Linked DNA regions of Homo sapiens. The protein of the gene in region 4 purifies or fractionates together with the protein of the main gene of each other region. This does not show direct contact. Each region holds a gene or a part of one and is shown on either strand. Other genes may lie near its edges.

Region 1 (3,500 bases), on a different chromosome or scaffold from region 4:
CCAGGTAGCATTCATTTTAAGTACCTGCTGAAATAAGATTATTTTAATATTAGATTTATAAATGCCAACATCTTCTGTCTATAGTCACATTAACTGGGAATACAATTAAACAGCGCTTTTATATTTCTAGTTTCCATATTATAAGGAGCAAAAGCCACTTAATTATAAAAGAATTTTAACTACATTAAAACTTGTCATTGCTATAAAACAACATAAACCAGGGCTAAGATAAACTTTTGCAGACAGAAGACAAAGTGTCTCCAATGCTCTTTGCCCTCCCCCTTTCCTCCCTTCTGGACATATGAAGTCCCACCCTGATTCTCACCTGCCTGTCAGCTGAAGCTCAGGCTTTATTAGTTAAGGAGTAGTCTCTCCCTTGGGTGGGTATGCACATCCCCTATATCCCACTCCCTGGCCTAGGAACAGAAGTCCCAAACAAAATGCAATTAATTATAGTACTTACTTCCGGCTTTCTACATGCTTGGCAGTTGACTGCAGGGATGGGAACTGTGTATCACTGTAGATTTCTGGTGGTCCTTGTGGTGTTTTCCTTGTTGTGGTTAACCTGGCCCCAGGAGGCCTATACACACCACTAGTCATCGCTGGTTCTGGGGTTTCTGTAACTAATATTTTATAACAATTTTTAGATAAACTATTTAAATGCTCAGCATTTTAATAAGCTATTCTTGCATTCCCAATCATTTAACAATTATAGAAAAAACAATACCAGGGTCTCTGGGTCAGACCACAGAAGGGAATTCATTTCAGAAAATGTCTGAAAGTGAAAACAGGCTGGGCGTGGTGGCTCACGCCTGTAATCCCAGCACTTTGGGAGGCCGAGGTGGGTGGATCACCTGGGGTCAGGAGTTCAAGACCAGCTGGGCCAACATGATGAAACCCTGTCTCTACTAAAAATACAAAACTTAGCTGGGCATGATGGCAGGCACCTGTAATCCCAGCTACTCAGGGGGCTGAGGCAGGAGAATGGCTTGAACCTAGGAGGCAGAGGTTGCAGTGAGCCGATATTGAGCCACTGCACTCCAGCCTGGGCAACAGAAGGAGACTCCGGCTCTCAAAAAAGAAAAAAGAAAAGTGAAAACATTGTATTTTTCTAGGGTAGTATTCTAACTCCTCCTCCACGTACAACTTTAGTAATCTACGTAAATGATGAGTTCCACAAGCCAAATTACTGGAAGTAGAAAAGGAATCTGCTGGGCTTGGATGACTGGTCTCATCAGGGACTGCCTCTCAGAATAGGACTTTAGTCCTGTTTCCCTACCAGTAAATATGAATTACTTCTTTACCTGATTGGTGGACTGATTAAGATGCCATATGTAAAGAATTTTTTAATGAAATGCCAGTGTGGTTATTTTTTAAGATTCTAGCCAGGGCTGGGTGCAGTGGCTCAAGCCTGTAATCCTAGCACTTCGGGAAGCCCGAGGCAGGCAGATCACCTGAGGTCAGCAGTTCAAAACCAGCCTGGCCAAAATGGTGAAACCCCGTCTCTACTAAAAATACAAAGATGTAGCGGGGCATGGTGGTGCACGCCTGTAATCCCAGCTACTTGGGAGGCTGAGGCAGGAGAATAGCTTGAACCCGGGAGGCGGAGGTTGCAGTGACCCAAGATTGTGCCACTGCACTCCAGCCTGGGCAAGAGAGTGAGACTTTGTCTTAAAAAAAAAAAAGAAAAAGAAAAAAAGATTCTAGCCAGGCACAATGGCTCACGCCTGTAATCCCAGCACTTTGGGAGGCCGAGGCGGGCAGATCACTTGAAGTCAGGAGCCAGACTCTGTCTCAAACAAAACAAACAAAACAAAAAGATTCTAAAGATGATTTAAAAACATAAGACCGGGTGTGGTGACTCACACCTGCAATCCCAGCACTTTGGGAAGCTAAGGTGGGAGGATTGCTTGAACCCAGGAGTTGAAGACTAGCCTGGGCAACATAGTTAAGATCTCATCTCTACAATAAAATAAACAGGTGGCATGCCCCGGTAGTCTACTTGGAAGGCTGGGGTGGGAGGATCACTTGAGCCCAAGCAGTTGAGGGGCTGCAATGAGCCATGATTGCATGACTGCTCTCCAGCCTGGGCCAGAGTGAAACCCTGTCTCTAAAAAATATAAAAATAAAAATTTAACATAGAGTAGTTATCTGTGATTTCTGCATAACAAGATTTGGAGTGATATGTTATTCTTTATAACATTCTAAATAAAATAATGAGTATACACTTCTTTAAAGTAGTGCTCTTAAACTTTCATTATTGCCCTAAGGAGACCTTTCAGACATCTGTTTCCTAACTGCCCCCCACTCCATGAAATTTTAATACTGCGATATACTATACATCTGTTTATGCATTCTAGTCTTTTCGTGGGCCACAAATGACTGTTAAGGTATAAGATTCCTTCATTCCATAAGAAGCAACTTTTACCACCTTGAGAATGATAAAATTGGCCCTGCTGAGAATTCATGCTTCAAAGAACAGGAAAGTTAAATAGGGAATGAAAAAGACAAAGCACAAGTGAAAGACAAGGGCCCCTTGTCTTTCTGTCTTTACTCAGCTGTCAAAAATATTTTAAATGATAAAAGCTTTAGGAATTTTCTCTCTCATGAAAACTTTTGGAGTTAAACCCAACCCTAGGGTAGTTACCACTAAAAATCCTAAATGAAGCTGACCTTGGATTCTAGTAAATTAAAGTCTTTTCCTTACCTTTTCCTCCATTAGCAAGTAGTTAATATTTAACGAGAATATTAGAAGAAATGCTCAATTCCAATAAATGAAACTGGAATCGACTAGTCTATATCTATATAAATTTTACAGCAACATACAGGACAAAAGCATGTCTTTTAACTTCCAGATTCCTTTTATTTAGGATTTTAAAGTCTTTAACAAGATATATACACATCCCACTCTACCAGGAATGGAAAGGAGCCTCTCCTCCTCACCCTACCACAATCATGCACTTAGTTGAAAGTGGACCATATATAAAATCATATATAAATTAGACATCTTTCTGAAACTGAAATAGTAAAATTACCAATTACTGGAGCAGGAGGTGCTTGTACTGGAGCTGTTTTATTCCAGGGACCTGAAGATTTTTCCATACCTCCACCACCACCTCCACCTTCTTCCCAGTTATCACCTGGATCTTGTCTCTTTTCATTATCGTCTTCTTCCTTTTCACTGCTGGAAAAGCAAAGATGTAAATTCATTAAGGAATCACCAAGAAAATTTTCAGTCCAAATCGTTAGTTTTATCCATGATTATCTGTACGACCCTGAAGAAGTCAATCTCTTTCGAGACTGAACGTCTTATTTAAAAAGTGAGGCCAGGTACAGTGGCTCACACCTGTAATCCCAGGACTTTGGGAGGCCAAGATGGGTGCACCACCTGAGGTCAGGTGTTCAAGACCAGGCTGGGCAACATGGCGAAACCCATCTGTACTAAAAATACAAAAATGAGCCAGGCATGGGGGCACACACCTACAATGCCAGCTACTGGG
Region 2 (3,500 bases), on a different chromosome or scaffold from region 4:
TATCTCCTATTTGAGGAGAAGTAGATCCTTCCACATCCTTGGCTTGAAAAGCAATAGTCAGTTTCACCCCACAGTCATCATAAGCAATAATGCCATCCTCAGCCTCCTAAAGAGATACAGTCAAAAACAGAATGAAAACAATCTCAAGAACAAAAACCAATAAAAACAACTATAGTTCTTACATATTCTTGTGCCAAAGGATTGGTACAGCTGTAAAAATGTCTTATTCCAGCATTTTCTAAAAGATTATTCATATGAATAAAAGGTAGTCTTGCCTTAAGCCTAGCTCAGTCTGCTGTAATTTTTAATTGGTCTTTCAATCTTAAGAATCTAATTTTTGCTATTGAGGAGAAAAAAGCTTACTGAAAATGTTTAATACACCTGCGCTCCTCATAGCCAATCAGAAATTAAACTGGGCATGTTACTTCCAAGGAAGTGGAAATTCTATAAGGGCAAGAAGCTTTAGTATTTCCTAAAGAAGCTGCTGAAGTATCCTCTTTTAGTAGCACACAGCACCTTGCACAGTATTTAATATATAATGTCAATCAATATACTTAACAATGCAGGATAATTTGGTGTATGATCTAGCACAGTTCAAGTACTTGACATAAAGTAGATGATTAAAAATTATGACATACTAGTATTTCAACAATTTTTTTTAATACCAGACTTCAAGGAGAAACAACATTTCAGTCATCGTACGTGTAAGAATGATTAACTCTTAAAAAATCTAAGGGCTGGTCTGAAGGTAGTGGGTTATCTCGATTGTTCAGTCAGTTACAGATCGAACTTCCTTGTTCTCCTCTTTCCCCCCTTCTCACTACTGCACTTGACTAAAAAAATAAAAGTCTAAGAAAGTTCAGGTGTGTCGTATTGAATCACACCGTTAAGTAATGACAGTGTACAGCAACTACATAAATTATACTGATTTTATGGTTTCAACATTTCTATGAAGATAATGCCCATGTCCCTACTCTAGCCCTGACTTCCTTCCTAAACTCCAGTCCTCATTACAAACTACGATATATTCAAAACCAATTCATTTTCCTCTTCTACCAATCACATTCCTTCCATAACTGCTATATAATAATTTATTGAACACTTACAACATTACCAGGTATTATGTATTATCAAATTAATCTTGTACAAAATCATCTCCATAGTTTCTCTTTTCCCTCATTTTACAAATTGGGGAAATCTGAGGAATTAAGTAAACCTTACCAAGGTTACAAAACCCAGCGCAAAATAATCCAGAGGATTTGAGTTTGGTTAAGAACAATGTCAGTGAACTCAGGTCTGACTCCAATGTCATCAACTTTTCCACAACCAAACTCAAAAGCTTACTGTTCACCTTTTGCTCTTAACTCACCAACTTCAACATCAACAGCTGACAATATACTATACATCAAATATATTAAATAGAGATAGGAGAATCCCTGCCCTGAGGGAGTCCAGTGCAGCAGAGACAGATTCATTAACAGGTAAATGTTATATACTGTAAGAAGCATGATGACAGAGGATTTACTAGGGTACTGTTGGACTAAGAAAGAAAAAAAAACAAAAAATGGCAGGGAAAGTCTCACACAAAGGCTCTCTTCATCAAGCCAGTTTTGCCAGACACATTTGGGAAGCAGAGCATTCCAAGAATTAAAAGTTATTAAAAATAAGCCCAACTGAAGTGTATTTTTATTTTTGTTAACAGTATCATCTGTCACATGCGAAATTCCTATTATGAGCTAGGTACTTCGAGGGCTTTTTAAACTATTACACAATCATTTTTGAAATTTAAAAACTGAAGCTCAGAGGTGAAATAATTTCCCAAGCTACAGTAAGTGATAAGCAAGATACTAGCCTTGCTCTTTCTGGCTAATAGCAATTATTAAATTATAACATGACTTTCCAGTATCTCTCATGTACCTTCACTTGTCTATAGTCACTATCTGTGTGCCTAGTTCAAGGACTACCTTAACTATCCAAGTAATTTCATAGTAATCCTTTTCATCTTTTGTCTTTCTCCATCCCATCTAGGCTTCATATTGCTGCCATTACTCTCCCAAAGCACATACCTGATGTCATTATCCAAAAGAAATCTTTTCCTTGAAGTACAGAACAAGGTCTAAATTTTTTTTTTGGAGACGGAGTCTCACTCAGTCGCCCAGGATGGAGTGCAATGGCGCCATCTCAGCTCACTAAAAGCTCTGCCTCCTGGGTTCACGCCATTCTCCTGCCTCAGCCTCCCGAGTAGCTGGGATTACAGGTGCCCACTACTATGCCCGGCTAATTTTTTTGTATTTTTAGTAGAGATGGGGTTTCACCATGTTAGCCAGGATGGTCTCAATCTCCTGACCTCGTGATCCGCCCGCCTCAGCCTCCCAAAGTGCTGGGTTTACAGGTGTGAGCCACCGCACCTGACAATAAGGTCTAAATTCTTTAGAGCAGCAATCAACACCCTCCCAGTCTAGCTGGATCCTGATTTTTCATCCTTATTTCTCCTAACCTCCCTCACCAACAAAAACCCACACACAAAACCAAAAAAAAAAAAAAAAAAATTCCTGTCGGACTAGTTACTCATTGCTTCCTAAAGAAACCCTGAATTTTTCTCATCTATACTTTTACTCTGTGAAGAATGCTCTTTCCTGTCTCCATCTGTTAGTAAAACCATCACATACCCTACCAGTTAATTTTCACCAGAGCACTATCGCTGACCTTCAATAGCAATATTTTATATTCTATATGAATTACTTGTTTCTATAAAACTCTCAATTTGTTATTAACTTGAAAGGAGAATTCATCTCAGACATCTTTCTATTTCCTATTTAGTGGATTTTTCAATAAATGAAATTTAAATGTGTGAACTGAGGATACACCCAACTTTGAAAGTTTTAAATTGCCTGGAAGACAGTACTATCATTTTATATAACTAGTTCTCTACTTGGAATGAGTTTGCCTCCCAGGGGACATTTGGCAATGTCTGGACACATTTTTGGCTGTCACAATGGGAGGCAGGGAAAAGGGGTCAGAATACTAACTTCCAGTGGGTAGAGGCCAGAAATGCTGCTAAACATCCCATCCCCCACAGTAAAGAATCATTCATCCCAAAATGTCAATAATCCCAAGGTTAAGAAACCTTACTTTGTTTAGTTCACTGTTAATATGACAGAAATTCTGAAAGAGACAAACTTCCGCTGATTATATGTACTCTATTACTATGTGCTGTTAAAGCAGAAGAGAAATAAACAGCTACAAAAATCATTTGGATTATGCAAAACCTACCTTCTCTTTGCCTTTATTTGGGCTAGTGGTTTTAGGATTGGAAAAAGTGGCTTCTTTTTCTACCGTGCCCAGAAAACGGTGATCTGAATGGGAATGAAATGAAACCGTGCCCTTGGGAAGTTTTTTAATCCTAATAGCATGATTTCTTTGAGCAGAGAGCATATCCTAAAAATGATAAAACAAAATTAACTTTCAATTGAAAAAGAAAGCATCAAGAAACACCTCCC
Region 3 (3,500 bases), on a different chromosome or scaffold from region 4:
AGTATTATTTTATATCTAAACTCTAAATATCTAAAATGTTGATGTATTATCTCAAGAAAGGTATAAAAACACAAGCAAAATGAATTTCTTAAGGGCTTGAACTCCGAAATTTCTTTCATTCAACTAAATAACATAAAATCCAATGTGATTACGTATTATTTTATGACAAAGTTTTTTATATACTGTACTCACTGGAAGAACTAATACAAAATAGTTGGGGTGCACAAATTGTTCCAAGCAATAACATCCTAAAACACACCACAATAAGAGTCTACGATTCTATTTTCCTCTTACGTATTTTCTCTGTTTTGTTTTGTTTTCTCTTTATCTTTCTGCAGGCTATTGCAACCACCCCTTTCTGTTCTTTATCCAGCATCTGCTGTGCTGCTTCTCATTAAGACGTATCTACGTGTCCATCTTTTGGTTTAGGCTCACGCTATCTTTCTCCGCACCCCAAGACTTATGTACAATTGTGTCATATTCATGCACAACTTCATTTTAGTCTCTATTTGACTTGATTTCTTTAGTGGATTTGGGCTTTTTGGCCAATAAGATAAATACCTGCAAGGGACATCACATAAAATTCGATCATAGAAGAGGATCTCTTTCCTGCCGTCCACATCTATCTGGAGCCTGGGTATGCTGGAGGCATCATGGTTGACCACCATGATGCAGGGGCTGCTCAGCCTCTTGGCTTGATGGACGAGCAGGTAGCAGCGCTTGTTGTCCACATCATTCGCAATAACAAATCCCTCTGAAGGCACAGAATTGCAGTGTCAGGTGAAATGGAGCCTAAGTGGAATCACATCCTGAAATATGCGACCTCCAAAGGTCAGCCAGTGAGAAGCAGCAATCCACCAAACTTAAGACCCACAGTCAAGGTTTTCCAGAATTACGTTAAGTGGTTCAAAAAAAGGAACCAGGTGGCTCTGGATGGATTTTATGGACACTCGAATTTTGAAAGCCTCAAAAGTCATCTATTCAACAATTATTCACTTTGTGCCAATTACCATGCCAAAAATGTCTTTTCTGTTATTAGTAACGATTAACTACAAAAAAAAAAGATGAGGAGAAAGGTGTAGAAACAACAAAATCACCTTACAAATGTTTCAAAATCCTGAACACAAGCCGGGACCCTGCTCTGACTGTGAGTCAGGCTCCTAGGGTGGGGCCCCAAGCACCTGAACACGGAAGCTCTTCCCGGGAGGCTCTGCAGGCTGGGAAGTCTACTGGGTGTACCTCTGCTCATCTCTGGTTCTTCTCACACCCCCAGCAAAAAGGCAAATATACCAACAACATGTATGATCAAAGCCACTCTTCACAACAGTATGAAATGCAAAACATCCACAATACAAAAAGGAGAACCTGCTGCTACTGGGACGCCAAGGCTCTTTACTGCCAATGTGGAGAAAACAACTAAAAACAGGGAAAAGTGAAGCAGGCTTTTTAGCCAAGGCATTATCTTTAAACAATGTAAAAAAGAGGATTTCAAAAAACAGACCTAACAAATATGCCTATTAAAACAGAACTAGAGAAGTTTGCCTGAACAAAGATAGGACGAGATGAAAGCTGACTCTAAAACATCACGATGGGTATTTGTTTCCACTTAAGAGAAAGGGGCGTGGTGTCACTATAACAGCTAACATTTCCTGAGCACCTCGCAAGCTACATACTGATTCGTCCCATTTCACATGGGATGTCTAACACTGTAAGTAACTTGCCGATTAGGATTTGAACCCAGGGAGTCTGATGGTAGCTTTTAACTACACACTACTACCCTTCATGTAAGGCAGTAAGTAATAATAATAATAATAATAGTAATAATAATGAACAAAGGTGGGGGAAAGGGGAAATTGTTACTAAAAATTCAAACAGTGAAATCTATCTTCTGTAAGTAGGCTTGATAAAGAAACACCATCTGCAGCCGGGCGTGGTGGCTCACACCTGTAATCCCAGCACTTTGGGAGGCCAAGGCGGGCGGATCACGAGGTCAGGAGATCGAGACCATCCTGGCTAACATGGTGAAACCCCGTCTCTACTAAAAATACAAAAAATTACCCGGGCATGGTGGCGGGCACCTGTAGTCCCAGCTACTCGAGAGGCTGAGGCAGGAGAATGGCGTGAACCCAGGAGGTGGAACTTGCAGTGAGCCAACATCACGCCACTGCACTCCAGCCTGGGCAACAGAGTGAGACTCCATCTCAAAAAAAAAAAAAAGAAATGCCATTCGTTTTTATAGAAAACACACATAATTCTAAAATAAAGCTCCCCCATGGTATGAGTGTGTTTGTTTGAGTACTACTGACGGTGGTAGGCAAGATGTCCAGTTCTACTTCCGGTAGACGGAAAACCCAACTGCTTGTCATAGGAGACTTTAGAGCCAAATTAGCAGGCAAAGTTAGAGTCTTTTCCTTGTCTACAATCTGCCAAAGTGGCATTCCTACCATTTTGAACACAAGTCCAATGCATACCTGGAAAGGGGACATTCATGTCGGCATGTAGCATTTCAATTAACTGTGTGGTCTTTGAGCCAGGTGCTGCACACATATCTAAGATCTATTAACAAAGCAAGAAACTGTTTCATGTTTTTAAAAAACCAAATATTCTACATTTAATTTAAAGCAATTCTAGTTTTTCAATTTCTAGTCCAAGATCTAAATATACTTCTTTACAGAGTCTATAGCATGACATAATTTACTTTTAGGGATTCTACACTGCCCCAAAATCACAGAATGATATAGGTACAGTCTCCAAAGAGGATGGGAGGAGAATGAAACTGTAAGCCAGAGAGACTAAATATAGAGATGAACAAGTAAGAATCATGAAAACATAATGCTAAGGAACAGAGCTACCTAGACTCAAATCTCAGCTCAGCCAGTTAACAGCTCCGTAACCTCAGTTCAAGTACTTCTCCTTGCTTCCTTTTCCTCATCTGGAAAAATGGAGATGGTGACAGTATCTGCCCTTAGAGGGTTGTGTGAATGATAAAGCCAACTAATTCACCTAAAAAACACAGAGCAAGGCCAGGCACAGTGGCTCACACCTGTAATCCCAGCACTTTGGAAGGCCAAGGCAGGCGGATCGCCTGAGGTCGGGAGTTCGAGACCAGCCTGACCAACATGGAGAAACCCCGTCTCTACTAAAAATACAAAATTAGCAGGGTGTGGTGGTGCGCACCTGTAATCCCGGCTACTTGGGAGACTGAGGCAGGAGAATTGCCTGAACTCAGGAGGCGGAGGTTGCAGTGAGCCAAGATCGCGCCACTGCACTCCAGCCTGGACAACAAGAGTGAAACTCCATCTCAAAAAAAAAAAAAAGAAAAGAAAAAAGAGCACAGAGTAATGCTTGCCATACAATGAGCTCTCAATACATGTTCACTATCATTTTCAACCTAATTTAGCCAATCACCATCACTGAAGACAATCCATATGGTAAACAAATCAGTAAAACTAAAGGGGAGAAAATTTTCTAAACCATAAAAATTAAGTAGGACAAAAAAG
Region 4 (3,764 bases):
CTCTTACTATTCTCTCTAATTTTTTTATTTTATTATTTTTTAAAAGAGGTCTCAGCCAAGACAATTTTAAATTTTTATGGATTTAGGAGTACAAGTGCAGTTTTGTTGCATGGATACATTGCGTAGTGGTAAAGCATATTGCATAGCATCCTCATCATCAGAATAGTGAACATTGTACCCAATAGGTAGGATTTCATCCCTCATCCCCCACCCATCTGCCCACCTTTTGGAGCCTCCGGTGTCTATTACTCCACTCTGTATGTCCATTGCTAAGCCCCCAACTATACTCATTTTATTTTATTTTAAAACTTGTTTTCTTTTTCTGCATACTTCAATGGATGCAAACTCTTTTCATTTTTTCTTTTCCTTTCACAGACAGTGACTTCATTTTTTTTTTTTTTTTTTGCTGCTAACTCCCAAGCACAACACAGTGACTTATGTTTTTAATTTTTTTAAGAGGCAAAGCCTACCTCTGAAGCTCCTTTTTTTTTTCTTTTCCTACTTCAATAAGCTGGTCTACATTCTTACTCTTCTCTATGCAACCACTTTCTTCTAGATTAACAGTGCTAGTACAGATGATTTGATTTATACATTGATTTCAGCATTTTCTTTTCATGTACTCAGGTGAGGAAAATCACTCTTTTATATCCAATGACTTTACAAAAAATCATTTACAAAGAAGTGACTGCATATGATAAAATATTTGTGCCAAAATAAATTCATGGCTTTTAAAATGTCATAGAAATGTCTATTCAGGTATCTTTTTTTTTTTTTTTCACATTCACTGTAATCCTTGTTTGATGTCAATGTCACGTCACCACCCCAAGCGGGGGGCACAAGCACGAGGAAAGGAAACCTTCCCCGTGAGGGGAGGGGTGGGGAGGCACGCTTCCCTCCCCCAGCGCAGCTGCTGGCTCTGTCTTTGCCGGAACACTCCAGCCCCAATGCTCTTCTCTTTGCTGCTGAGTGAAGTCCTCCCCATGGCCCACGGCCTCCCTGCCTCAGCCCTTTGGATCTGCTCCTCAGACTTTACCCCTTAGTTATGCCCTGATTCTAGGACCCAGCCTGGACTCCACATCCCTTGGTCCCAGGCTGGCCCCAGGTCTTCCACGTAGTCCCTCTCCACCAAGTCCCCAAGTCACCCTTGACTCTGAGAGGTATCCCTCTCCCACACCAGTTCTTTTCCAGTCACTTCTCCTCCCATGTTTGTCTTCAGTCTTTGCCTTTATTTATCCCTGTCCCTCCCAACCCCCGGGCTCCCAAGTTCTATCTCACTCCTCCACCCTCCCTGTCCTCTCACAGCTGAGGTTCTGGGCTGTAATGATGGCAATGCTGCCCAGCACAACCCCTGCCGCCACGATGTCAGAAGGTGCCACAGTCTCATGGAGCATATAATACTGCAGTATAAGGGCCACAACCACCTCGGAATGTAGGACAGCGCACACCAGGGCAGGGTGGGCCTTGGTGACCGCATAGCCCACACATGTGAAGGAGACCAAGGCGAGGATCCCCACTGCCCCCACACAACTCCAACTCAGGAGGTCACTGGGCAACACGGGGGCCTGCAGCACAAAGAGGCCTGGCACAGAGCCCAGCAGCCCCACCAAGCCAGATAGGAAGGCCACTGTTGGGAGGCAGGGGGGAAAGTGCAGAGAACGATAGACCAGAAGCCTCAGGGACAGCGCCAGGCCTCCCAGGAAAGCCTCCACATAGCCCAGGGCGGTGTAGACACCCGTGGTCCCCTCCTGTAGTGTCCAGAGTCCAGGTCCCACAATGATGATTAGTCCTAGGATGCAGCCCAACAGTCCACACCAGTCGTAGCCACTGAGACCCTGGCTCTCAAGGCAGAGAGTGAGGACGGCGGAGCAGACGGTGGAAGAACCTTTGCGAACAGTGGCAGCGTTGCCAGCGGGCACCACCTGAACCGCACTGTAGGCACATCCAATGCTGAGGATGTTGAGCAGGGCACAGAAGAAGGCCCGGCTTCGGATGTCAGGAGTTCCCAGAAGGGGGTCGCCACGCAGTTTAAGTAGCAGGGCAATAGGGAGGTGGAAGAGGCATCGCCAGATGAGCAGCTCCAGCGAGGGCAGGTTGGAAGCCTGGTAAGCCATACGAGAAAGGGGGCCCACGAAGCCAGCAGGCAGGCCCCCACCCAGCAGGGCCACCAGCAGGCCACTGGTGGCATCAGAGGGCTGGCAGCGCTGGTACCAGCGGAGGCTGGGTGGAGCGGAGGGCGGCGATGGGTGTGTGGAGTCAGGCTGGTTGAAATAGGGGTGACTGCCAGCCATCTTTCCTTGGACTTTCTCCTCTCCTCCTGGCTCAGGGAGCCTGGGCCCCTCAGAGCTCCAGCCATTGTGACCTCATTGGAGTGGGGGTGGGATTCTTCCCTGGAACTCTCCTGAGGTGGTAGCACGCCTATTTTCCCACTGAGTCCAACTCTGCTTCTTTTCTTTCTTTTTTTGTTTTTTGTTTTTTTTTATTGATCATTCTTGGGTGTTTCTCGCAGAGGGGGATTTGGCAGGGTCATAGGACAATAGTGGAGGGAAGGTCAGCAGATAAACAAGTGAACAAAGGTCTCTGGTTTTCCTAGGCAGAGGACCCTGCGGCCTTCTGCAGTGTTTGTGTCCCTGGGTACTTGAGATTAGGGAGTGGTGATGACTCTTAACGAGCATGCTGCCTTCAAGCATCTGTTTAACAAAGCACATCTTGCACCGCCCTTAATCCATTTAACCCTGAGTGGACACAGCACATGCCCCAGAGAGCACAGGGCTGGGGGCAAGGTCACAGATCAACAGCATCCCAAGGCAGAAGAACCCTTCCCAGTACAGAACAAAATGAAGTCTCCCATGTCTACTTCTTTCTACACAGACACAGCAACAATCTGATTTCTCTATCTTTTCCCCACCTTTCCCCCTTTTCTATTCCACAAAACCACCACCGTCATCATGGCCCGTTCTCAATGAGCTGTTGGGTACACCTCCCAGACGGGGTGGTGGCCGGGCAGAGGGGCTCCTCACTTCCCAGAAGGGGCGGCCGGGCAGCGGTGCCCCCCACCTCCCGGACGGGGCAGCGGCCGGGCGGGGGCTGACCCCCCACCTCCCTCCCAGACGGGGCAGCTTGCCCGGCGGGGGCTGCCCCCCACCTCCCTCCTGGACGGGGCGGCTGCCGGGCAGAGAAGCTCCTCACTTCCCAGACGGGGCGGCTGCCGGGTGGAGGGGCTCCTCACTTCTCAGACGGGGCGGCTGCCGGGCGGAGGGGCTCCTCACTTCTCAGATGGGGCAGCTGCGGGGCGGAGGGGCTCCTCACTTCTCAGATGGGGCGGCCGGGCAGAGACGCTCCTCACCTCCCAGATGGGGTCGCGGCCAGGCAGAGGCGCTCCCCACATCTCAGACGATGGGCCCCCGGGCAGAGACGCTCCTCACTTCCTAGACGGGATGGCGGCCGGGAAGAGGCGCTCCTCACTTCCTAGATGGGATGGCGGCCGGGAAGAGGCGCTCCTCACTTCCCAGACTGGGCAGCCGGGCAGAGGGGCTCCTCACATCCCAGACAATGGGCGGCCAGGCGGAGACGCTCCTCACTTCCCAGGCGGGGTGGCGGCTGGGCAGAGGCTGCAATCTCGGCACTTTGGGAGGCCAAGGCAGGCGGCTGGGAGGTGGAGGTTGTAGCTAGCCGAGATCACGCCACTGCTCTCCAGCCTGGGCAACATTGAGCACTGAGTGAATGAGACTCCGTCTGCAATCCCGGCACCTCGGGAGGCCGAGGTT
Region 5 (3,500 bases), on a different chromosome or scaffold from region 4:
ACAGTGAGCTGTAACGGCACCACTGCAATAAATAATTTATTTAGTTAAAATATTAAACTACCTTCAGGCTATTTAAGATGAATATGAAACATGAATGAATTTCATGTTTAGACTGGGTCCCATCCCCAAGATATCTCTCTCTCTGTCTCTCTCTCTATATATATATATTGCAAAATCTGAATCACTTCCTGTCCCAAGCATTTCAGATAAGGGATATTCAACCTGTATTACTTCTCCCCGCAATGTTCTCTGCAGTTTACCTGTTTCTCCCACACACTTAAATACTATGTACAACATATTAATATATGCTATATCTTTAAAGTTGCTGATTAATGTTATTTCTAACATACCTTTTTTGGAACTGTTTTGATTCTTCTTGGTGGTGCTGCTATCTGCTTTCTTAACATTGGCACTTTTCACAGATTTTTTACTTTTAGAAGTAGCTTTCTGTTTAGGTTTTTCTCTTTTGGCTGTCTTTTTTGGTGGCTGTTACAAAAGAAAGTAAAAGTACACATATTGATGAGATTCAATGCTATCCCATCCCATCCCTCTACTTCCCCTATGCCCCTTAATAATATTAGAGAAAACCAATATATTTGGTATCAGCAATTAAAAATTCTTTTTGAGAGATGACTAATATACAACAATTTTATCCCAACACAAGTCTAAGCATGACAAATCACAATCACACACACACAAGAGTTGCCCATATTTATTCAACACTATGGATAAACTACATATGCATTACTCTACTTAATCTTGGGGGGGACCCCTAAATATAGATAATATTATCTTCTCTTATTTATGTTCTCTCTCTTTCAACTGGAATCTTTTTTTTTTTTTTTTTTTTTTTTGAGACAGAGTCTTGCTGCGTCACCCTGGCTGGAGTGCAGTGGCCCGATCTTGGTTCACTGCAACCTCTGCCCTCCCGGGTTCAAGCGAATTCTCCTGTCTCTGCCTCCCTAGTAGCTGGGATTACAGGTGCTCGCCACCACACCCGGCTAATTTTTGTATTTTTAGTAGAGATGAGGTTTTGCCATGTTGGCCAGGCTGGTCTTGAACTCCTGACCTCAGATGATCTGCCTGCCTTGGCCTCCCAAAGTGCTGGGATTACAGGCATGAGCCACCACACCTGGCCTAGAATCTTGTGTTCACTGATGTTTCCCTAACTCCTAAAATAGTCTCTGGTATACAGTAGTTGCTCAATAAATACTTATGACTATATGAGGAAACTAAGGCTCAGTGTGGTTACCTTGTCCACAGTCACATTAATAAACATGCAAGATTCAAATATAGATGTGACTCCAGAACTTGTGTTCTTAAACACTAACCCATAGGTGATTAGACACAAACAAAATACATAAATATGGATAGATTAAAATGACAGGCCAGGCATGGTGGCTCATGCCTGTAATTCCAGCACTTTGGGAGGTCAAGGCGGGCGGATCATGAGATCAAGAGACTGAGACCATCCTGGTCAACATGGTGAAACACTGTCTCTCCTAAAAATACAAAAATTAGCTGGGTGTGGTGGTGGGCACCTGTAGTCTCAGCTACTCAGGAGGCTGAGGCAAGAGAATTGCTTGAACCCTGGAGATGGAGGTTGCAGTGAGTGGAGATCATGACACTGCACTCCAGGAGAGAGACTGTCTCAAAAAAAAAAAAAAAAAGACAAAATCAGAGTTCATACTTTGTCTCATGTGGAGCCTGTGAAATTAGAAAGCATTAATTCTTAGTTTAATTAATGTTCCCAAAGGAAAAGCTTCCTATTAAACATTCCAAGATATTTTAAATTCTCCCATTTACACACTAAAACTACTGCGATCACTTGACAGAACGTTTCTCCAAATGTTTAACACTCTTGATTCCTGAGAGTTATCCTAAAGCAACCTGGTTTTTTTTTTTGAGATGGAGTCTCGCTCTTGTTGCCCAGGCAGGAGCAGGAGTGCAATGGCATGATCTCGGCTCACCGCAACCTCTGCCTCCCGGGTTCAAGTGATTCTCCTGCCTCAGCCTCTTGAGTAGCTGGGATTACAGGCATGCGCCACCACACCCGGCTACTTTTGTATTTTTAGTAGAGACGGGGTTTCTCCATGTTGGCCAGGCTGGTCAGGAACTCCCGACCTCAGGTGATCCACTCACTTTGGTCTCTCAAAGTGCTGGGATTACAGCCGTGAGCCACTGTGCCCGGCCAAGTCAACCTGTTTTTAAAGACATAAGCACTGTGTTGAACCTATCCTTTAGATTAAAGTATACACATCAATCTGTTCCAAAAGTGGCCTCAAGCTATTCATTGGATTTTAGTGTCTTTTTTTTTTTTTTTTTTTTTTTAAAAAAAAGAGATGGTCTCGCTATGTTACCCATGCTAGACTCAAACAATCCTCCCACCTCAGGCTCCTGAGTAGTTGGGACTACAGGCACACACCACCTCACCTGGCTGGATTTTAGTGTTTGTCTTTCTTTTTGCTAATATACCATCACTGTACCTATTTATACAAGCCTATCATCACCCTGCACTACCTCAACAATATACCACTGGCTGGGAAGCATGTAGTTTAACTGCTACTAAAAAATACATTTTTAAGGTGTCAAGGGGCTGACATGCTTCTAAAAGTAAGTACATGAATTTCCCATGGACTTTTGCGATTTACAGGCCATTTTAACTTACTTCCTAATCCTAAGAGATGTTCTAGATGGTGTGGGGCTATGGGACAAGTATCAATGATTTGTCGTTTTTTTATGACGAACTTAAACTAAGTTTTAAGGTTCATTAAGTGTCCACCCAGTTCATGTGAACTATATATTAGGCTCTGAAAGGGAATCCTAAAAATTCTTAAGTTCTTTAGCACACTTAATACACAGAATACAATAATCATGATTATATATCATTTTTTAGTTAAACGGTAATAAAATCTGGACTTGCAGGTACAAGAAAGTAAGTTATTACTGAAAGGGTTGAAGGTTGAGCAAAAGAAACAATATCATCAATAATTACTCAATCTCCATTCAAATTAGAAAATCAGAATTAGATAACTAAAATACTTCCAAAGCCTTTTAAGGCTTGCCATTAAAATTTTAGATGTGATACACAACATGACATCATTTTAAAACCTGCAAATTGTGAGTAGTGACAGTTTGTCAAAGCATAAACATTTATAATAATAAATAACAAGCCATCTCCATAAAATCTTACTTCTGTATAACAAAACCACATCTTTCTACATTTCATATCTGCTGTAAAGGATAATGTTCTACAGTTTTTCTAAACGGACAACCAGGCCTGTCATCTATTAAAATTTCTAAAAGACTGCAAATATACTGCACAAGCACTAAAGAAAAATATACGACATAATAGTTCAAAGAGTACAGGCTCTAGCAGCAAGCTGCCTGGTTTCAAATTCCAGCCCCAGTACATCTCTGGGCCCTTGTCTCATTTACAAAACAAAAGAAACAATAGTTCCTATGGTTTTATGGGGAGTAGATACATTAACAGATGAAAA
Region 6 (3,413 bases), on a different chromosome or scaffold from region 4:
AAAAAATTAGCCAGGCATGGTGGTGCATACTTGTAGTCCCAGCTACTTGGAAGGCTGAGGCAGGAGGATCACTCGAGCCTAGGAGTTCAAGGCTGCAGTGAGCCATGATGTCGACACTGCATTCCAGACTGGGGGAAAGAGGATAGAATTTAACTGACTGATACCAAGAGATGTTCACAACATATTATTAAATGAAAAAATTCAAATTACAAAGCTATGGGCAGTATGATCCCATTGTTTTAAGAAAAAAAAAAACAAGATATGCATTCAAATACATCCATCAAAGGCAAAATATTATGTGGTTATCTGGGGGTGTTCTTCTCTGTGTTCCTATTTCCAAATATGTACTAATTATAAAAAGAAAAAAAAAGATTCCACATCTTAACCTTTGTCAAAAAAACGGCACAGTGGATTACAAGTGGTCATCTTTATCAGATAAGATTACTTCAAAAAGTCTGTTCTGGATAGAAGCAAAAAGCAAACAAGGCTGAAAAATGGCCTGGGAGTGTTACGGCAATTTATTTACAGACTATTGAATACGGCCTTAAAAAAATGGTAAAAAACAAATGGCTTATATTAATACATTAGATGTTAACAGTTACAAGACTTAACTTTTAAACGTTCTTGCAAGAGAGTACAACACTTTTAAACAAATTAACTGGGAAAAAACTTAGAAGAGTGATTCTGTATTCACTATAGAGCCTCATTTGAATACAATTAGAAAATTCATTTTTAATTGCACATTTGACAGGCTGAAATGAGTTAAGACCTGCAGACTCTGTTAGTCCATAAAATTAAAAGGATAAGTTCTTCCCTTTACAATAAAAATTTTCTATTTTCCCTGTCTTCAAATGGATCCCATGACAGCTTATTATTAATAGCTTTTATTTTTAAGTAGAAACATTTAAGAAATTATCTGGAGAAGCCTTTGGTAAATGGCAAACTATTGCTCCCCTTAAAAAACCACTTGAAATTACAAAACCCTGAAAGTATTTTTTTGTTGTTTTTTTTTTTAAAGTTCCAAATCAATAGGTTTTATTGCATAAAACCTTGAAAGAACTTAAAAGCAAATTATGTTTGCAAGCCTACTGATAACCAATCTTCTTTCAACAAATGAAAAATACATACAGGACTTGCCTTTTCAAAGATTATCCATATATGAAACAAACAGCCCCTTCAGGCTCCTAAATTTTGAAGATGTTTTTATTTTTCTATTTTTTCTAAATAAAAATTGTTTTTTAAGCAGACTTTTTAAAGCCACTTGTGTTAAACCATTAGTCCAATAGTCTAATTATTTTACCGTATCACTGGTCAAGTTATCTTGAAGCAATTTCCCTATTAAAAAGTTAAGTATTTACTGCAGAATTTAGGTATGGCTTAGAGGAACAAGCACAGGCAATCCAGCTGCCAAAGTTTCTGGCAATCCCTCTTTCTAAGCCTTATTTTTCTTAGTTGTAAAGTAAGAAGACCGACTGGATAATTTTAGGTTACTGGGACATCTCGTTCAGACTTTTAAAACATCAAAAGGCAGACTGGGCCAAAAAAAAAAAAAAAATTGAAAGGATATTATATCCCAGGGAATTAGCTATCTATATTCAAAACATATATTTCAGCTTTGTTTTTTTTACCTATGTCCTACAAGAAGGATTCACCTTTTTGGAAAAGAAAGCAAGTCCCCTTCCCCTAAAAAAAGAAAAAATAAAAATAAAAAAGGAAAACAAAAAGCCCTAGGATGAAAAATCATCCCAAATTGGATTAAGCTCAAAGAGCAAAACCTTAACTCAGAAGTACCAGATTTTAAGCATTTATGTATTCACTTTTCATTTTTCTCAAGAAGTCTTGATATTTCTTACAAATAGGCCATTGCAAACTGACCAGATTCAACTTAAAATTTTATCACTTTTAAGTGATATCAAACAGCTATTCCAGTTGTTTGATTTCTCTCCATAACCATCTCTATCCAAATTTCAATTTAAAATTTCAAAAAGATACTCAAATTTTCATGCCCTACATTCACTTAAGTGCAATTTAGATACAGCTGAGGGTAGCAAATACCACTAACTTCTCCAGACATTTAAAAAAATCTTGCTCACTGTCAGCACACTGAAAGTATGATTTAACACTGTTGACGGTTATTGATGTACCCCAAGGACTAGATTACTACCTGGCATGTTGTAGGCACTGACTATGTATTTGCTGACAGAATAAAGCTCTGAATCACAGCTAGAATTATTACCTTATTTCACATTCCACAAATGACAACTCCTTAAAATTGGCATTTTAAGGTTTCACAAATGACTTGCAACTCTCCAACAAATAATGAAGACGTAGGAAACATACTGAGTTGCATGCAGAAAAACCTGCTGTGTCAGTAAATACAAAAGGGAATTTCACGTGGGAGAAGATAAATACTTTCTTCTTTTGGCAGGTCAAATCTTTTATATTTTTGTCTTCTTAACTTGCAGTCTGACTTACCTGCTTTTTTCCAAAAAATTTAAGCAATATTTTGTGTTCTTTAGATTTCACTCAAATTTTCAGCGATGACTGCTGTTATAACCTACAGAACTAGTGATTTCCCAACTTTGTTCTATTAATCCAAATTCACTGAATTAAAATATTAAATGCTATGAAGGGAAGCATTAAAATTTTTTACTATCATATTTCATCAATTATAAGACATATTTTCATATAATATGTCTGAATCTGGGATGCAGCTTACAATTGATGACGTCTTAGCATTGTATTGTGGCTTAATTGGCAACATTTTTTCTTCTAAGTGACATATAAAAGACTAGTATGTCTCACAGTAGTGCTGTGTAAGGATAATATTAGAAGTTCTAGTTCAAATTTTCAATGTCAAAGCAACAATTTCCCTGTCCTCCCAGCCACTCTCCCAACATAAATATATAACTGAAATGTTTGATTAGAAAAACTATCCAAACACAGTTCAATTTTATATAAAATATTTAATTTTTAAAACACAGGCTATTCATGTCACATAAATATCTTCAACTGTAGGTTAGCTGCTTATGGTCAGCAGAATTATCAAGTGTGACTATTAAGAATAACTTAGATACTGTCACTTATAGGAAAGTCTAAAGCTCTAAGACTCACCATATTAAAATTTCAGATACTTGAATACTGTTGCTATTTTGCTAATTTCAAAATATTTCTTCATTTCCTGCAATGTAGTTTATAAGTTGTTAGTAATCAATATTCAAATAAAAGCAACATATTTTTTTCTTCCATTCATTTCTTTCTCCCAACAAAAAGAGTCCATCAAAAAATAAAATGGTCAACTGATATCAACTTATTTTATAGTAGTAAAATGGTAAATTATCCTCTTTAAAATAATTTTACTCTTATCAAACTACAGGACTTCCCACATACTGTTTTGAAATGAAGGTTCATAA
Region 7 (3,500 bases), on a different chromosome or scaffold from region 4:
TGGTTTTGACTGATGGATTCTGAGCATACAAATTTATTTGCTGATTTTGTTTATTGCATTTAGTGCAATAATTTTAAAAAGGATTTGCTTTGGTTTCAGATACGGAAGATGGATGAGATTTTTGTTGAATGTTTGATTTGATGACACCCTGCGTAAGTAGTCATACACGTAGACATGGCGCATGGCTAGACAAAGGCTGCGAGCGGGGCTGGAGGAGGGAGCTCCTGGGGGAACTGCCTCACAGCGTTATGGGCTCCGTACAAGCTGCGAGTGCCTGGGGCACACTGGATGAGGCTGAGGAGATCATCTGGCTGTGACCTTCTAAACAGTCAATAAGCAAATACCACACGGTCCTGGGAAAGCGCACATCCAACATTTACAACTCTGATAAATGTACACTCTCAGTCACAAGTGACAGCATTTTACCATAACAAACCAGGCTTATCACTATGCTTAATAACTGGATATGCTTTAAAATGAGCACCAACAGTACCTTGCATTTATGCGGCATTTTTAAATTTACAAATTACTTTTGCTGTTTTTTAAATTGTTGTTGAAACATGGGTTGGGAAGGGCACAAGGGACACCTTTAAGACCTTTAGACACTTATCCAAAGTAAAAAACAGAAGAAGGAAATAGTGGAAAATAAGGCTGGAGTTAGAAAGCTGATGACTTCAGCATGCATCAGAATCACTGGAAGCTTCTTAAGACAATTCTAAGGTTTCAGGAGGACTGGAGTGGGGCCACGCTATTTATACTTCTAACAATGCCCCGGGTGAAGCTGATGCTGCTGATCCAGGGATGACTGGTTACCCAGTGCTAAACATTTAGAGAATTATGCAGGGAGGAACAGGGGAATGCCCCAAATCAGTATACTAGCGATCTTAAATGAGGGAAATTCTACATTATTTGAACAACTTGCTGAAAATTCTGAATGATGGCCTTCATTCATTCGCTTTAGTCAGGAGGGCTGGTTTAATAAAAGTAGAAGCACAAGTTTGTTTTTATAAATTATAAATTTTATTAAATTATTTATGGTTTTGTAGCTATCTTACATATAGCTATTCGTAACATATTTTTACCCCCTTGTACTTCACAAAATTGCAATTTGGCTTGAATGCATTTGTCAATGGAGCCTAATTTCTTGGATACTTTAAACCAAGGCATTTTGATTCCGCTGGCACTGTCTGTATCTTACTTGGAAGTGTGTACAGGAAGAGAGAAACAATTCAGAAAAGATTCTGTCTGTAATGTACCATCCTCTCCATATGATCCCCTGCATTGCTTTACCTTGGTGATGTGTGTGGTTGTCGTTGTTGACACGGACTCAGATGTGATGGTTTGTGCGGTCAGTAACGTGCCCGAATCACCACCAGCCCCGCCATCAATCTTTGGATAGTTGGGGGAAAAATACAAAGTAATGCTTAACTTCTGTTATGTTGTCAGAGAAGATCCCCGCCCCATCGAATATGCATCTTTTAAAATCCATGTGGTTTGCGTGTTTGCAGTAGTAATTACCATCCAGGAGAGCGGCTGGTATTTGAAACCGAGTAGAGGCAAAAGGCTAGGTGCACATGGAGAAGCAAACTCAACTGTGTGAGTGGAGAAAAGAGAGGAGAATGGACATAGTAGGTGGGACTGAAAGCTACAAGGGAATTATGACAGAATTTGTCTGAAGGACTTTTGCACAAGCTAGAAAATGAAACTAGAGAGCCAGGCAGAGAAGTTTCCACAGTGACCAGAAGCGCTGAGTTTGTTGTTTTTTAAGCACAGGTGGGTAAAAATAGATAAACATTTTATCAAATTACCAAGCAACAGAACCTGACCAGGACAAACTGAATCTGCATGATTTGGTTATCTGCTTACCTCTAGCGATTGTTTTCATCAACTACATTGTTCCTGTAATAGTTTGCATGTTGTGAGCATATATACGGGCACATATATTTCAATACTGCACATACGCATGTGCTCCTACATATATATAAATCCCATACATATGTTAAAATAGATTTTAACTTGTTTGCTTTGATATTGAAAGATGCAGAAGATTCTAGAGTTTCCAAGGGGAATCAATGAAGCAAATTAATAGCCTAACAGTTTATGTTAAGATCACGAAACATATTTGCCCTCTGTTTCCTGACACTGACACGAGGAAATAACTGGACGGTCCAGAGCCTTTCTGACTGTAAGAGGAAATCTCTTTCAAACTTGGGTCATGCACCTGTATGTCTTCATTCTGGCAACTTATCACAGCACAGACACATCACTAATGCTCCCCCGCCAAGCTGTTCATAAGAAACCTATTTGTGCTTATGTGGGATCAAGGCACACACAAGGATGCCATATCCAAAATAATTTTCAGATGTGTTTCACACATGCATGCATTAAACCTTTTAAAAAATATTCTGAGAGGTCAATAACCTGACATCCTCCACCATGATACAATTCTACCACAGAAGGTTCATCTTCTAAGTGGAGAAAATATTTATTTTATATTCTATTTTGAAATCATGAATGCTTTATCTTTTTTTGTTATTCTTAAGGTTAAACATCTTAATGCTTATTCCAAATCTTTACAGAACCAATGTGTGAAAACCTAAAATCAAACACACAAATCTGATAATTATTTAGACACATGGTATCACCATTCACATATGAATGACTACATAGGTCTTTAGAAAATAATTCCACACGAAGGAGAAGCACAGGTGTGTGTGCCTGTGTGTGTTTGTGTGTGTGTGTGTGTGTATGTGTGTTATTACAAGCAAGAATGAGTTGATTGGGTCAATCTTCACGGAGTTAGAGAGGGAAAGAAGCCTAAATCACATCCACAATTAGATCGGATTATTATTAATCGATGAATTATATCAGATAAACTTTGCAAGACAATTTGTTTCCTAAGTGTACACAAACATTCTTAGATATGTCAACTCAGAAATGGCTTTCAATCATATGAACAAGATTGATACTGTCTGTCCTAAATAATCATATGTACAGTTCCCCTATAATTACTGGGTTACCAATTTAATTGCAGCTCTCTGTCTCAATCTAAGAGAACATAGCAAATTATGTTGTTGAAGTACACTTACAAAGTGCAGATACAAAAAGCTACATCAAAGCCAGAAACATGTAAACTAAGAGAAGAAAGAATGAAAACATAGATACACTAAGGGAAAAAAGAGCTCGAACAGTCCAAGTCTAGAGCTTTTGTACCTGTGGAGACTCATATGTGATGGTTTTGGTCTCAGTTTGGACAATGGGGACTTCCTTGGTGGAGATTTCTGTCCTTTGTGAGGCATCAGAAATTGTTACCATCTCTGTTTTTACCACTGGTGGCTGAGGTGGAAAAGGAAGGGAAAAATAAATTCTAGAGGTAATAAAGTAAAAGTGTTTAATGGAACCTTCACAAATAATAGTAAGAAACATATCCAAACACACACTCATGCACAAAAGAAAAGAGTAAAAGCAAACAACCTAAAACAAACAAAAGAAATAAAAGA

Evidence for each region.
Region 1: the proteins of SLC35G3 (region 4) and CDV3 purify together in Homo sapiens (affinity purification with mass spectrometry; one large-scale study listed by BioGRID and IntAct). This does not show direct contact.
Region 2: the proteins of SLC35G3 (region 4) and CSDE1 purify together in Homo sapiens (affinity purification with mass spectrometry; one large-scale study listed by BioGRID and IntAct). This does not show direct contact.
Region 3: the proteins of SLC35G3 (region 4) and NSUN2 purify together in Homo sapiens (affinity purification with mass spectrometry; one large-scale study listed by BioGRID and IntAct). This does not show direct contact.
Region 5: the proteins of SLC35G3 (region 4) and DEK purify together in Homo sapiens (affinity purification with mass spectrometry; one large-scale study listed by BioGRID and IntAct). This does not show direct contact.
Region 6: the proteins of SLC35G3 (region 4) and CDK13 purify together in Homo sapiens (affinity purification with mass spectrometry; one large-scale study listed by BioGRID and IntAct). This does not show direct contact.
Region 7: the proteins of SLC35G3 (region 4) and EPB41L2 purify together in Homo sapiens (affinity purification with mass spectrometry; one large-scale study listed by BioGRID and IntAct). This does not show direct contact.

What each region holds. Positions count from the first base shown.
Region 1 is NC_000003.12:133,583,686-133,587,185, reverse strand, and holds part of CDV3 (protein CDV3 homolog), read right to left. Parts: intron 3,185-3,500; coding exon 3,036-3,184; intron 624-3,035; coding exon 464-623; intron 28-463; coding exon of another isoform or gene 12-27; exon of another isoform or gene 1-11.
Region 2 is NC_000001.11:114,726,985-114,730,484, forward strand, and holds part of CSDE1 (cold shock domain-containing protein E1), read right to left. Parts: intron 3,439-3,500; coding exon 3,274-3,438; intron 837-3,273; exon of another isoform or gene 736-836; intron 107-735; coding exon 1-106. UniProt on the Homo sapiens protein: RNA-binding protein involved in translationally coupled mRNA turnover.
Region 3 is NC_000005.10:6,619,545-6,623,044, forward strand, and holds part of NSUN2 (RNA cytosine C(5)-methyltransferase NSUN2), read right to left. Parts: intron 2,557-3,500; coding exon 2,472-2,556; intron 755-2,471; coding exon 562-754; intron 1-561. UniProt on the Homo sapiens protein: RNA cytosine C(5)-methyltransferase that methylates cytosine to 5-methylcytosine (m5C) in various RNAs, such as tRNAs, mRNAs and some long non-coding RNAs (lncRNAs).
Region 4 is NC_000017.11:35,192,020-35,195,783, forward strand, and holds SLC35G3 (solute carrier family 35 member G3), read right to left. Parts: upstream 2,375-3,764; 5' UTR 2,289-2,374; coding exon 1,272-2,288; 3' UTR 501-1,271; downstream 1-500.
Region 5 is NC_000006.12:18,237,031-18,240,530, forward strand, and holds part of DEK (protein DEK), read right to left. Parts: intron 487-3,500; coding exon 351-486; intron 1-350. UniProt on the Homo sapiens protein: Involved in chromatin organization.
Region 6 is NC_000007.14:40,096,668-40,100,080, reverse strand, and holds the end of CDK13 (cyclin-dependent kinase 13), read right to left. Parts: 3' UTR 501-3,413; downstream 1-500. UniProt on the Homo sapiens protein: Cyclin-dependent kinase which displays CTD kinase activity and is required for RNA splicing.
Region 7 is NC_000006.12:130,864,246-130,867,745, forward strand, and holds part of EPB41L2 (band 4.1-like protein 2), read right to left. Parts: intron 3,337-3,500; coding exon 3,214-3,336; intron 1,390-3,213; coding exon 1,291-1,389; intron 1-1,290. UniProt on the Homo sapiens protein: Required for dynein-dynactin complex and NUMA1 recruitment at the mitotic cell cortex during anaphase.